Linked DNA regions of Homo sapiens: region 2 is linked to region 1. The links come from fine-mapping of genetic effects on gene expression. Tissue or cell type: whole blood. Region 1 holds a variant in brackets; the other region holds the start of a gene. All regions are shown on one strand. Distances are between the middles of the regions.

Region 1 (5,377 bases):
TGATGCCAACGGAAGTATTTGCTTTTTCAGACGTTCAAATTTCTAATTTCAAGTTTTTCAAATTTGACAAATTTGTCCAGGTCTAACAAATTTACATGTATATCAAATTAATACCTGTGAACCAAACATGAACAGTTTTAAATATTAGATAATAATGTATGCAAATTTATCTAATTTAATAATTAGATAATATCTAATAATGTATGCAAAATTATCTAATTTAAACATTAGATAATAATGTACGCAAATTGCACATGATAGCAAGCTCAAGAGTGATGTCGCAGTGTTGTCCATATAAAGAAGAATATTAAATAGGTAAAAATATCAACTGCCTTACTGGCTGGCTTGTTTCAGTCCTGGGTATACATGTGGGAGGTAGAAGAAACCTGATTACTACTTTGATCTCTTTCTAAGTGGTCAGAGGACTCACTGGTCATTTTAATTATCACAACTTTTCAAGGTAGATATTCTTTTTTAAAAAAGTAATTAATTGAAATGGACAAATAGATTATATACATGTATCCTGTACAACATAAAGTTTTGAAATATGTAGACATTGTGGAATGGCTAAATCGAGCTAATTAACATCCGTGTTAACTCACACACTTATCATTTTTTATGGTGAAAGGTGGATATTCTTATCTATATAGTATAGATTAGGAAACAAAGGCTCAAAGAGATGAAGCAACCTTTTTTTTTTTTATTCAGACAGAGTCTCACTCTGTTGCCCAGGCTGGAGTGCAGCAGTGTGATCTCGGCTCACAGCAACCTTTGCCTCCTGGGTTCAAGTGATTCTCGTGCCTCAGCCTCCTGAGTAGTACCTGAGATTACAGGTGTGCACCATCACATCTGGTTAATTTTTGTAATTTTAGTAGAGACGGGGTTTCACCATGTGGACCAGGCTGGTTTCAAACTCCTGGCCTCAAGCGATCCGCCTGCGTTGGCCTCCCAAAGTGCTGGGATTACATGCTTGAGCCACCGTGCCTGGCTGCATCAACTTTTTCTTTTTCTTTCTTTCTTTCTTTTCTTTTCTTTTTTTTTGAGACAGAGTCTTGCTCCATAGCCCAGGCTGCAGGGCAGTGGCAGGATCTCGGCTCACTGCAACCTCTGCCTCCCAGGTTCAAGTGCCTCAGCCTCCTGAGTAGGTAGCAACTTTTTCAAGGTCACACAGCTAGTCAGAGATTCAGACTAGGTAGGACGCAGACTTAACTAGAATGTCCGCATCTAACTGCAGGGCCGCCACACCTGCCTCTCTGAAATCAGATCAATGAAGCACCTGCGTAGAGCTTTGGATTTATCCCAGGGAAACATTCTAAAGACAAAAGTAGGTCATACATGAGAAAGTGTTTTGAAAACTGTAAAATGGCGTATGTGAGTAACAGGTGTCATCATAACCATAATTATCACTGTTGGAGGGAATGCTCCACATAAGCAAGCATAGTGTCACCATCATATCCTTAGAACCGTATTCTCTTGGAAAAAAAAACATGTCTAGTTAAGAATAAGCAAAACATGTACCACTTAGCAAAAGAAATAATGATCTCTTTAAGCATCTAAGATCCTCATGGTGGCTGTACTGGGAGGTTATCCTGAGATATACACCAACCCAACCTCAGAGGTTAGACTAATGTCCTCTCTAGGTCAACTGTAACAACAACACACAGAGTAGAAATATGACAAGACACTTTGAAGAGACCGTATGGTTCCCGATGAGCAAGACTGGACAAGAATATGATAGAAGGAATAGTATATCTAAAAACTAAATAGGGTATGTCTGTCCCTAGGGGCAGTTAGCCACAGGAAACACTACCGAGGCCAGTGTAGCCCCAGAGGTGTCACTCAGTGACATCCCCAAAAGATGGAGTCTCAAGCCATGCACTTGCGTGATCGCAGTTCCTTTAGCAAGGAAAAGTCATTGCTGCTTCAGAGACAGATGCATCAAGCCACCTTGACCCATTGCTTCCAGTCAGTTCATCCTACTCCCCTTGTTCTGATCAAAGCTCATCAAGCAGCCTTATAAGACTTGGCTCCCAGTGTCCATCTGCTTGAAGGGAGTAAATATACCAAATATGTGGACTTGGAGTATTTGATTCAGTGGCAGTCATACTTCTCATTGTAAATAAATGAATAGATTGGCATCCTGGTTTTACACCTGGATAAAGTGAGCCCATGCCAGGAGAAAGGACCCACCCTTGGTCCGTGGACAAATGAGACACCTGAACTTGCTCAGTTGACAGCCGGTTCTCAGGCCTTGGTGAATGCACTGCACCTCTCCAGGGGCCCAGCCCTGCTCGTCAGGACTCAGTTCCAGAACTGCTTTCCTTCACACCTGCCTCCTTCCACTGCCTGCCATCATCCCTATCTGACGGGGCCGCACTCCTCACCAGAACCATCCATCCTCCCTATCCGATGGGACCACACGCGCCAGAGCCATCCATCATCCCTATCCGATGGGACAGCGCTGCTAGCCAGAACCATCCTGTGTGCTGCCTACTTCCTTCACTGTCTTGGTTTCCTCACCTGTCAAATGGTAGTAATGATATTAACCAACTTGGTGGATGAAATTATATAATCTGTAAGCATACAGACACTCTACCAATGCAAATCCTTTTCATGAGCGCAATTCTAAAATTTACCTTGCAAAATATGGGCCCTCAGTTTCACAACTATTTGGACCATTTTGAAATAAATAACTATATGTTACTGATATTTTGACCTCTGTTAGAAATGAATATTTACTCATTGATTATGAACACCATAGGGCTTCTTTAGCATTCAATCAAGTTTATCAGCAGGAGAAATGGTGTTTTTTTTTTTAATGAGTATGTTTTTAAAAATTAGAATAA[C/A]TTTTTTAAAAATTGAGACAGGGTGTTGCTCTGTTGCCCAGGTTGGAGTGCAGTGGTAGGACCACGACTCACTGCAGCCTAGACCCTCCTGGGCTTAAGCACTCCTCCTGCCTCAGCCTGGGCCACCAAGTAGCTGGGACCACAGGCACATGTGACTATGCCCAGCCAATATTTAAAAAAAATTTTTTTTTTTTTTTGTAGAGACAGGGATCTCACTATATTGCTGAAGCTGGCCTCGTTTTTTGTAGAGAGGGGGACCTCACTATATTGCTCAGGCTCGCCTCAAACTCCTGGGCTCCAGGGATCCTCCCACCTCAGCCTCCTAAACTGCTGGGATTACAGGCATGAGCCACGATGCCTGGCCTAAAAATTAGAATAAATTAACTGTGTTAAAAATAATTGGCCAGGTGCGATGGCTCACACCTGTAATCCTACCACTTTGGGAGGTCGAGGCGGGTGGATCACCTGAGGTCAGGAGTTCGAGACCAGCCTGGCTAACATGGTGAAACCCCATTTCTACTAAAAATACCAAAAAATTAGCTGGGTGTGGTGGCGTGCGCCTGTAATCCCAGGTGCTCAGGAGGCTAAGGCAGGAGAATCGCTTGAACCCAGGAGGCAGAGGTTGCAGTGAGCCGAGATCATGCCATTGCACTCCAGCTTGGGCAACAAGAGTGAAACTCTGTCTCAAAATAGTAACAATAATAATAGTAATTAAAGACCAAGCCAGGTGCAGTGGCTCACACCTGTTATCCCAACGCTTTGGGAGGCTGAGGCGGGAGGATTCCTTGAGTGCAGGAGTTTGGGACCAGCCTGAACCACACAGTGAGATCTCATCTCTACAGAAAGTATAAAAATCAGACGAACATGGTGGTGTGCCTCTGTAGTCCCAGATACTTGTGAGGCTGAGCTGGGAGGATGGTTTGAGCCCAGGAGTTCGAGGCTGCAGTGATCTGTGATTGCACCACTACACTCCAGCCTGGGCAACAGTGGGAGCACCTATCTCAATACAAAACAAAACAAAACAAAACAAATAATTAAAGACCAAATTCAGTACAGAAATAGTATTCAGGCAGTAAATTAGGCCCTTTGCACACCAAACCAGAAATTCTTTGCTTTGTTACTGTTCCAAAGGTAGCACAATGCCCTGTACTGTGCACTGTCTTGTGAAACTGGCAGTGTGTAATTCCTGAGCACTTACTCTTTAGTGATCTGAGTTGTTCCTGATACATCTTCTTATGTGGCCCTATCCACCAGCCCCAGATCAGCCCATGTAGTTGGTGCCTATTGAATACCTACTGAATGAATGGACATGAACCAGAACATGAACTGTCTGACCAGGCGGCAGACGCTTTCGGGATGATGTGGCAGTCACCCTGGTGGTGGTGGTGGGGGTAGAGGCGTGACTCTGGAGTCTCCACAGAAGAGTGAGAGTTAGCCTGCAGGGTCCAGAGACTTTATTTTCAAAAGGCACTCCCAGCCAGACGTGGTGGCTCACATCTGTAATCCCAGCACTTTGGGAAGCTGAGGTGGGTAGATCACTTGAGACCAGGAGTTTGAGACCAGCCTGGCCAACATGGAGAAAACCCGTCTCTACAAAAAATACAAAAATTAGCTGGGCATGGTGGTGCGCACATGTAGTCTCAGCTACTCGGGAGGCTGAGGCAGAGAATCGCTTGAACCTGGGAGGTGGAGGTTGCAGTAAGCGAGATCATGCCACTGCACTACAGCCCGAGCAACAGAGTGAGAGACTCTGTCTCAAAAAAAAAAAAAAAAAAAAAAAGCACTCCCCTGAAATAAAAAACCACTCTGTCTAGCTACAGATCATTCAGAGCTTGCTGTATGTTCCTTACTCTCTCCTCTTTCAGCCAATCAAGATCTGCATTCTTGGTCCCCCTGCTGTGGGAAAATCCAGTATTGCTAAAGAATTGGCCAACTACTACAAACTGCATCACATCCAACTGAAGGATGTCATTTCTGAAGCCATAGCAAAACTGGTAACACTTTAAACTATTTTCCTGGGCATTTTAATTAATTACTGTATTGTTCTTAGGGTATAAAGATGTATATGATTCGAATTAGCCAGCTGGATGCAGTTTAGATGATCCCAATTTTGTTGGCAACATCCAAGGTGTCCTAATCAGTAGCCAGGGGAACATCTGGCTTCTCTTCCCCCTCAGGCCTGAGAAGAGTGTTGACCTTGGCCACACTGGCGTCAGAGAGCTTCTTCACAGCCTGTTGGATGTGGCGCTTGCTGGCTTTGGCACCCGCAATGAACACAAGTGTGTGTTTGTGTCGTCTTCTTCGTGGCCAACTCAGGGGTCGGGGGATGTTAGTTGATGATGGCAGAGTGGTCATGCTGGTTTCTCCTGAGGACACTCTTGGGAGGATGTCTGGGCTGCCCCCGGAGCCACAGTGTCCTGGGACACCAGAAGGTGGATGACGTGTGGATCTTCTTTTCTCTGTGCCTGTGGACACCTTTCAGCACTGCCTTCTTGGCCTTCAAAGGTTTTGCTTTGGCTTCGGGAAAGAAA
Region 2 (5,377 bases), 48 kb after region 1:
ATTTTTATTTATTTATTTATTTATTTCTGAGGCAGAGTTTTGGTCTTGTTGCCCGGGCTGGAGTGCAATGGCACAATCTTGGTCCACTGCAACATGTGCCTCCTGGGTTCAAGCGATTCTCCTGCCTCAGCTTTTGAGTAGCTGGGATTACAGGCGCCCACCACTATGCCCGACTAATTTTTGTATTTTTAGTAGAGATGGGGTTTCAACATGTTTGCCAGGCTGATCTCCAACTCCTGACCTCAAGTGATCTTCCAACCTCAGCCTCCCAAAGTGTTGGGATTACAGGCGTGAGCCACTGCGCCCGGCCTCATTTTATTTTTAAAAATTGTTCTCTTTACCTGAGATGCCCTTCTACTCCTTCTGTCCACTTACCAAACCCTAACATATCAGGACGTGTCTGAAGTGACCTCTTACATGAAGTCTACCTTGACTCCATCCTCAATCCTCAATATTGTTCCTTTTAAATGCCTTAGGCAAGTAGCGTGATATCTAGCACATTCTAGGTACTAAATATTCATCAGCTGTGCTATCTAGCTGCCTCATTCTATGGAAGGCTGAAACAAAAATAGTTTGAAGCAATTATAGACCAAAAGCATGGATGTTTAGCGTCCCTCTCTTCACTGCCTTCTGAGATGCCTGGCAGAGGACAACATAAGCTGAAAAAGTCCCCATTCTTTTATTCATAAAGTACATCGTTAGTGCATTTTTTTTTTTTTTTTTTGAACAATGTCTTGCTCTGTTGCCAAGCTAGAGTGCAATGGCATGATCAGGGCTCACTGCAGTCTCAACTTCCTTGCCTCAGGTGATCCTCCCAACCTCAGCCTCCCAAGTAGCTGGGACTACAGGTGTGTGCCACCAAGGCCAGCTAATTTTTTTGATTTTTTTTTTTAGTAGAGACAACGACTTGCCACGTTGCCCAGGGTGGCCTAGAACTCCCGAGCTCAAGGAATCCTCTGCCTCCCAAAGTGCTGGGATTACAGGTGTGAGTGAGCCACTGTGCCAGGCCCCAGGGCATATCTTTACAAGCTGCTTTGAAGTCCATAGCCTTAATACATTATTGAATTATCTGGATCTCAGATTTTCAGTCTTTTAGGGACAACTATGCTACTGGGTCTCCAGCCAAAGCCACCTTGATGACAAGAGGAAAAGAGACTAAATGGAAGAAATGACAATCAAATATAAGTCTGTTTGCAGATCAGCACTATTTAATGGAAATGAAGGCCACATATATAACTTAAAATTTTCTAGTGGTCACATTTAAAAAAACAGGTAAAATTAATTTTAATAGTATATTTTCTTTTTTTTTTTTTTGAGACAGGATCTCGTTCTGTCAACGCAGGCTGGAGTGCAGTAGTGAGATGACGACTCACGGCAGCCTCCACCTCCCACTCCAGGGATCCTCCTACCTCAGTCTCCGGAGTAACTGGGACCACAGGCAGGAACTACCATGCCCAGCTAATTTTTTTTTCTTTTTTCTTTTTTTTTTTTTTTTTTTAACTTTTTGTATAGACGGGGGTTTCCCTATATTGCCCAGGCTGGTCTCTAACTCCTGCCCAAGCGATCCTCCCACCTCAGCCTCCTAAAGTGCTGGATCACAGGTGTGAGACACCGTGCCCGGCTTACATTTTCTTTACTGCAATATATCCAAAATATTTCAACGTGCAATCAATATAAAAAGTGATCAGTGAGGTATTTCACATTCGTCGAACTGACACCCGTGCGTATTTTGCACTTCCAGTGCCTCCTAAACGAACTAGCCTCATTTCAAGTGCTCAGTGGCCCTAAGTGGCCAAGGGGCTACACTAATGGACAGGGCAGGTCTAGGTCCTGTGTTTTTCCCATTCGGAGTCACCAGTCCTACTAGACATTCTGTGAAAAAAGGGAAAGCCTTTGTGAAACTTCCTGAGGACTCACAAATGCACATTATTACATTTAGAGTTTAGAACTTTGGTTAAGGCAGCGTCCTGTATTTGATTCTTTCCCTCTTCCTCTCCGCTAACCCCCTATGTGACACCGTAGAACTTATAATTCGTTCTAATTCGCAGATGGAGGGCATATGAGAGAGGAGGCTCTGCCTCAAACACTTTCTCAAACTTTTGCCGAGGGGTGGCGAGAAGGTAGACTTCCAGGTCCCACCCGATATAGATTAAGGGCTGGAAACACAGTCAAGGGGAAATTATGACCAAGACAACCTTTGCTAAAATGCCAGCGGTGACTGCCATTGATGTTCCTATAAAAGGTCAGCTCTGTCAGGAAGTTCCAGTGCATCATTTGTTCAAAAGTAAAATCAGCCCGTGTTCCAGAATTCGCGGACTGTCGTCAGTCCTAACCTACACATTTATTCGTTCAACAAATATTTCAGCGCCTGGGTCAGGCATCAGGAATACACTGGTGGTTAAAACAGACGGAAAGCTCCATCTGGTGGGACGCAGTCTGGGAGGGAAAGGGAGTCCTGGGGACATGTTTTCGTCGGCTCTAGGCTAAGCACCTCTCGCCGTAGCACACGGGGTCGGCACCGCTGCCCGGCGAAGTACTTGTTACTTTGCAGTCCAGTACGAAGCGGCGGAGTAACCGGTTCCAACCCAAGGCAGCGACTCATGCGAGTCGTTCTAAGCGCCGCGCTGGGGGGTACATACGGTGCACGCGTGGGTGCCTCACCCCCTGGCAGCGCCTCCAGGGACGCTGCTCCGGGAAAGAGCAGCCGCCGCGACCTCAGGCGGCGGGAAAGGTGGGACCTCACAATGCGCCGGAAGCGGTGCCTCGTGGCTTGGGATCTCTCCGGGTTCTTCCTTGCGCCGTCCACGCCGCACTGCCCACGAGGGCGTCCCCGCCCGAGGGACAACTCACCGCCCGGGGCCTCCCTGAGCGTTCCCTTCCACCATCTGACACCCACTGCTAAGTGTGAGAGGACCCAGGGGGTAATTGCCGGGCCGCAGGCGGCCTTAGGAACTCCGCTTCCCGTGAGGCTTCGCGGCGGACGGCGCTGGTGCGCAGGCGCACGCACGGCGTGCGTGGTGGCGTCAGCAGTTCTAGAACGTTGCTGTGGTAGCGCTCGGGCGCCATGTTAGGACGAAGGGGAAGGAGGAGAAGCGCTTAAAGCGGCGGGAGCGGTGCGGGAGAGGGGTTGGACCCAGGGCTGAGGCAGGCCCCCCCCTCCCTCCCGCCTCAGTGGATCATGCCCAGGGCGGCAGCGGCGGCGGTTGCGGGGGGGAAGTGACTGGGCGGTGCCGGCGCCGGAGACGATGCCGTTGTAAGTAATTTGTATTCTGTTTTCTTTCGCTCGCCGGCTGGGCCTTGGGGGGCGTCCGGGAAGGGGAAGAGGTAGGCGGAGAGGGTGGCACGCGAGCCCGACCCTCCCCGCTGGTAGGAGGCAGGCAGGACTGGGGACCTTCCTGTTTCCTCGCTCGCTCGCCGCCGCACTTCCCCCCGTGTGCTGGGTTCCCGCGTCCCCCGACCCTTCCTGGCTGGGTCAGCTGCCGTCGGGCCGGGGGCCTTCCCCTTCCGGAATTGCTGGCGGAACCTCTAACTCGCCCGGCCACTCCAGCTTCTCCGCCCCGTCCACAAAGAAAATCAAAACAACCCGAAAACAAAACATTGCCTGGTGGTGGGGAACCACGACCCTGCTGCACGCGGGATCAGCACTTGGGGTTCGGGCTCGCTCTCGGCGCCCCTCGGGCCCATTCGATGTTGCTTTTCTGTTCCTGGTCTGTCTCAGTTTGCTCACTCTCTTCCTCCCATTTCCAGATGCCTGTCTTGTGCGCCGGAGTTAGCCCCTTTCCACTGACCTTGTCTGAATGTAGGAGCACGAGTTAAAAGCCCAGCTTTGAGCGTTGAGTCCGCCTGCCTCCACCTCCGCCTCCCTAGCATTCACAGGCGGTCGGAGAAGGGGGCACTTCACAGGGTGCCCTCCTCCAAAACGACTTATGTATTGCTTTCCCTGTTTTGTTTTGATGGGGTAACCAGGTTTCATTCTGTTTCCTTCTTTCTCTATCTCTGGTGATACTTTTTTTTTCCTGGTTGTAAGGCTTGAAGCTAGTCTCTTTATGCTTTCTAATGCCACTGCGCCTTTTTCTTTTCTTGGTGGGTTTTTAAAAAGTTTTTTTCTCCCCTCCCCCTTTCTGATAATGAGATATAATTTGGCAGCTCATTGCCAGTAGATTACGGATTTTTTTTTTCCTGCAAATATACAGCATTGTAGAGGCCTAAATAGTGAGACTGCATTTCTTCCATTTTTGAATATTGAAGCGTAAGAGTGCCTCTTTGAGACCAGGGACCGAGTTTTCTTCATCTTAGTAGCCTCAAAACGCAACATGTAATTGACACTCAAAGTTTTGGTTAAATTCAGGATAAAGATTTTTGTGGTTTCTAGACATCGAATGTAGTAACTCAGGTCTATTTTTTTTTTGTAAGTAAGGATAATTTCTTTAGCACATAATCACCGATTGTAGTTTTACAATTATATATGTGTGTGAATGTGTTTCTTTACAGGTGAGACTCTAACTTTGGCACAGACCTTAATGACTTCTATCGCAATTTATGTATTTTAAAAGGATTTTCCATGGCTCCCACCCACCCCCTTAGGTTATTAAGAAGTCTATCACATTACTTCTGTGATGAAAACGTTTGTTAGACTTAACTAACTATACAGGTCTAAAATCTTGGAATCTGCATGGTTTCTGTTTATTGATTTTTCCCTTTCATAGAATAAGAGACCCTAGGAGAACTGAGTCTAAGCAAGATTGTTGTGGTGTTTCTCAGTTCAATAGGAGATAAATGTTTGCAGTGATGTCGTGATGACTGCGTTATTAAGTTAACATTTTGCTGTCTTTGAAAAGGGACTTCTTTTTCTGATAATCATACCAGCATTAAAAATGATAGATGTAAACCTTAAAAGGCTTCAATGAAGAAATAACATTAAGTAATTTGTGTCTTATTTCTAGGAATTAAAAGTACTTTTATACCTACTTTCCCCCAACATTCTTTGAAGAGGGAAGGTATACATTTCTGTGAAAGACCTTAGGTATTTCAAATTCTTCGCGAGTTAGTTCAAGTGTGTAAAATGGAAGACGGGGCCAGGCGCGGTGGTTCACGCCTGTAATCCCAGCACTTTGGGAGGCCCAGGCAGGTAAATCGCTTGAGGCCAGGAGTTTGAGATCAGCCTGGGCAACATGGCGAAACTTCATCTCAACAAAAAACACAAGTTAGCTGGGCGTGGTGGCTCATGCCTGTAATCCCAGCTACTTGGGAGGTTGAGGTGGGAGGACTGCTTGAGCCCAGGAGGCTGAGGCTGCAGTGAGCCTTGATCATGCCACTGCGTTCCAGCCTGGGTGACAGAGCGAGACTCAAAAAGTAAGTATACGATAATTACTGTAGT

Evidence for each region. PIP is the estimated chance that this variant, and not a neighbour inherited with it, causes the effect.
Region 2: it holds the start of PAPOLA, and the variant in region 1 is fine-mapped to the expression of PAPOLA in whole blood (TOPMed, PIP 0.96).

The regions. Positions count from the first base shown.
Region 1 is chr14:96,451,636-96,457,012 of GRCh38, forward strand. It overlaps AK7 (adenylate kinase 7), which reads left to right. Exons shown (of 18, transcript NM_152327.5): 11 at 4,712-4,840. It also overlaps the pseudogene RPL23AP10. Among named protein-coding and RNA genes, the nearest start is that of PAPOLA-DT, 48 kb to the right of the region's middle. The variant C/A (reference allele first, on the strand shown) is at 2,847.
Region 2 is chr14:96,499,348-96,504,724 of GRCh38, forward strand. It overlaps PAPOLA (poly(A) polymerase alpha), which reads left to right and starts at 3,035. Exons shown (of 22, transcript NM_032632.5): 1 at 3,035-3,253. The coding sequence starts at 3,246. It overlaps PAPOLA-DT (PAPOLA divergent transcript), which reads right to left and starts at 2,979. Exons shown (of 1, transcript NR_122121.1): 1 at 2,301-2,979. RefSeq lists enhancers at 1,740-2,336, 2,337-2,931, 2,849-3,108, 2,932-3,527, 4,683-5,184 and 1 more and silencers at 2,447-2,790, 3,229-3,348.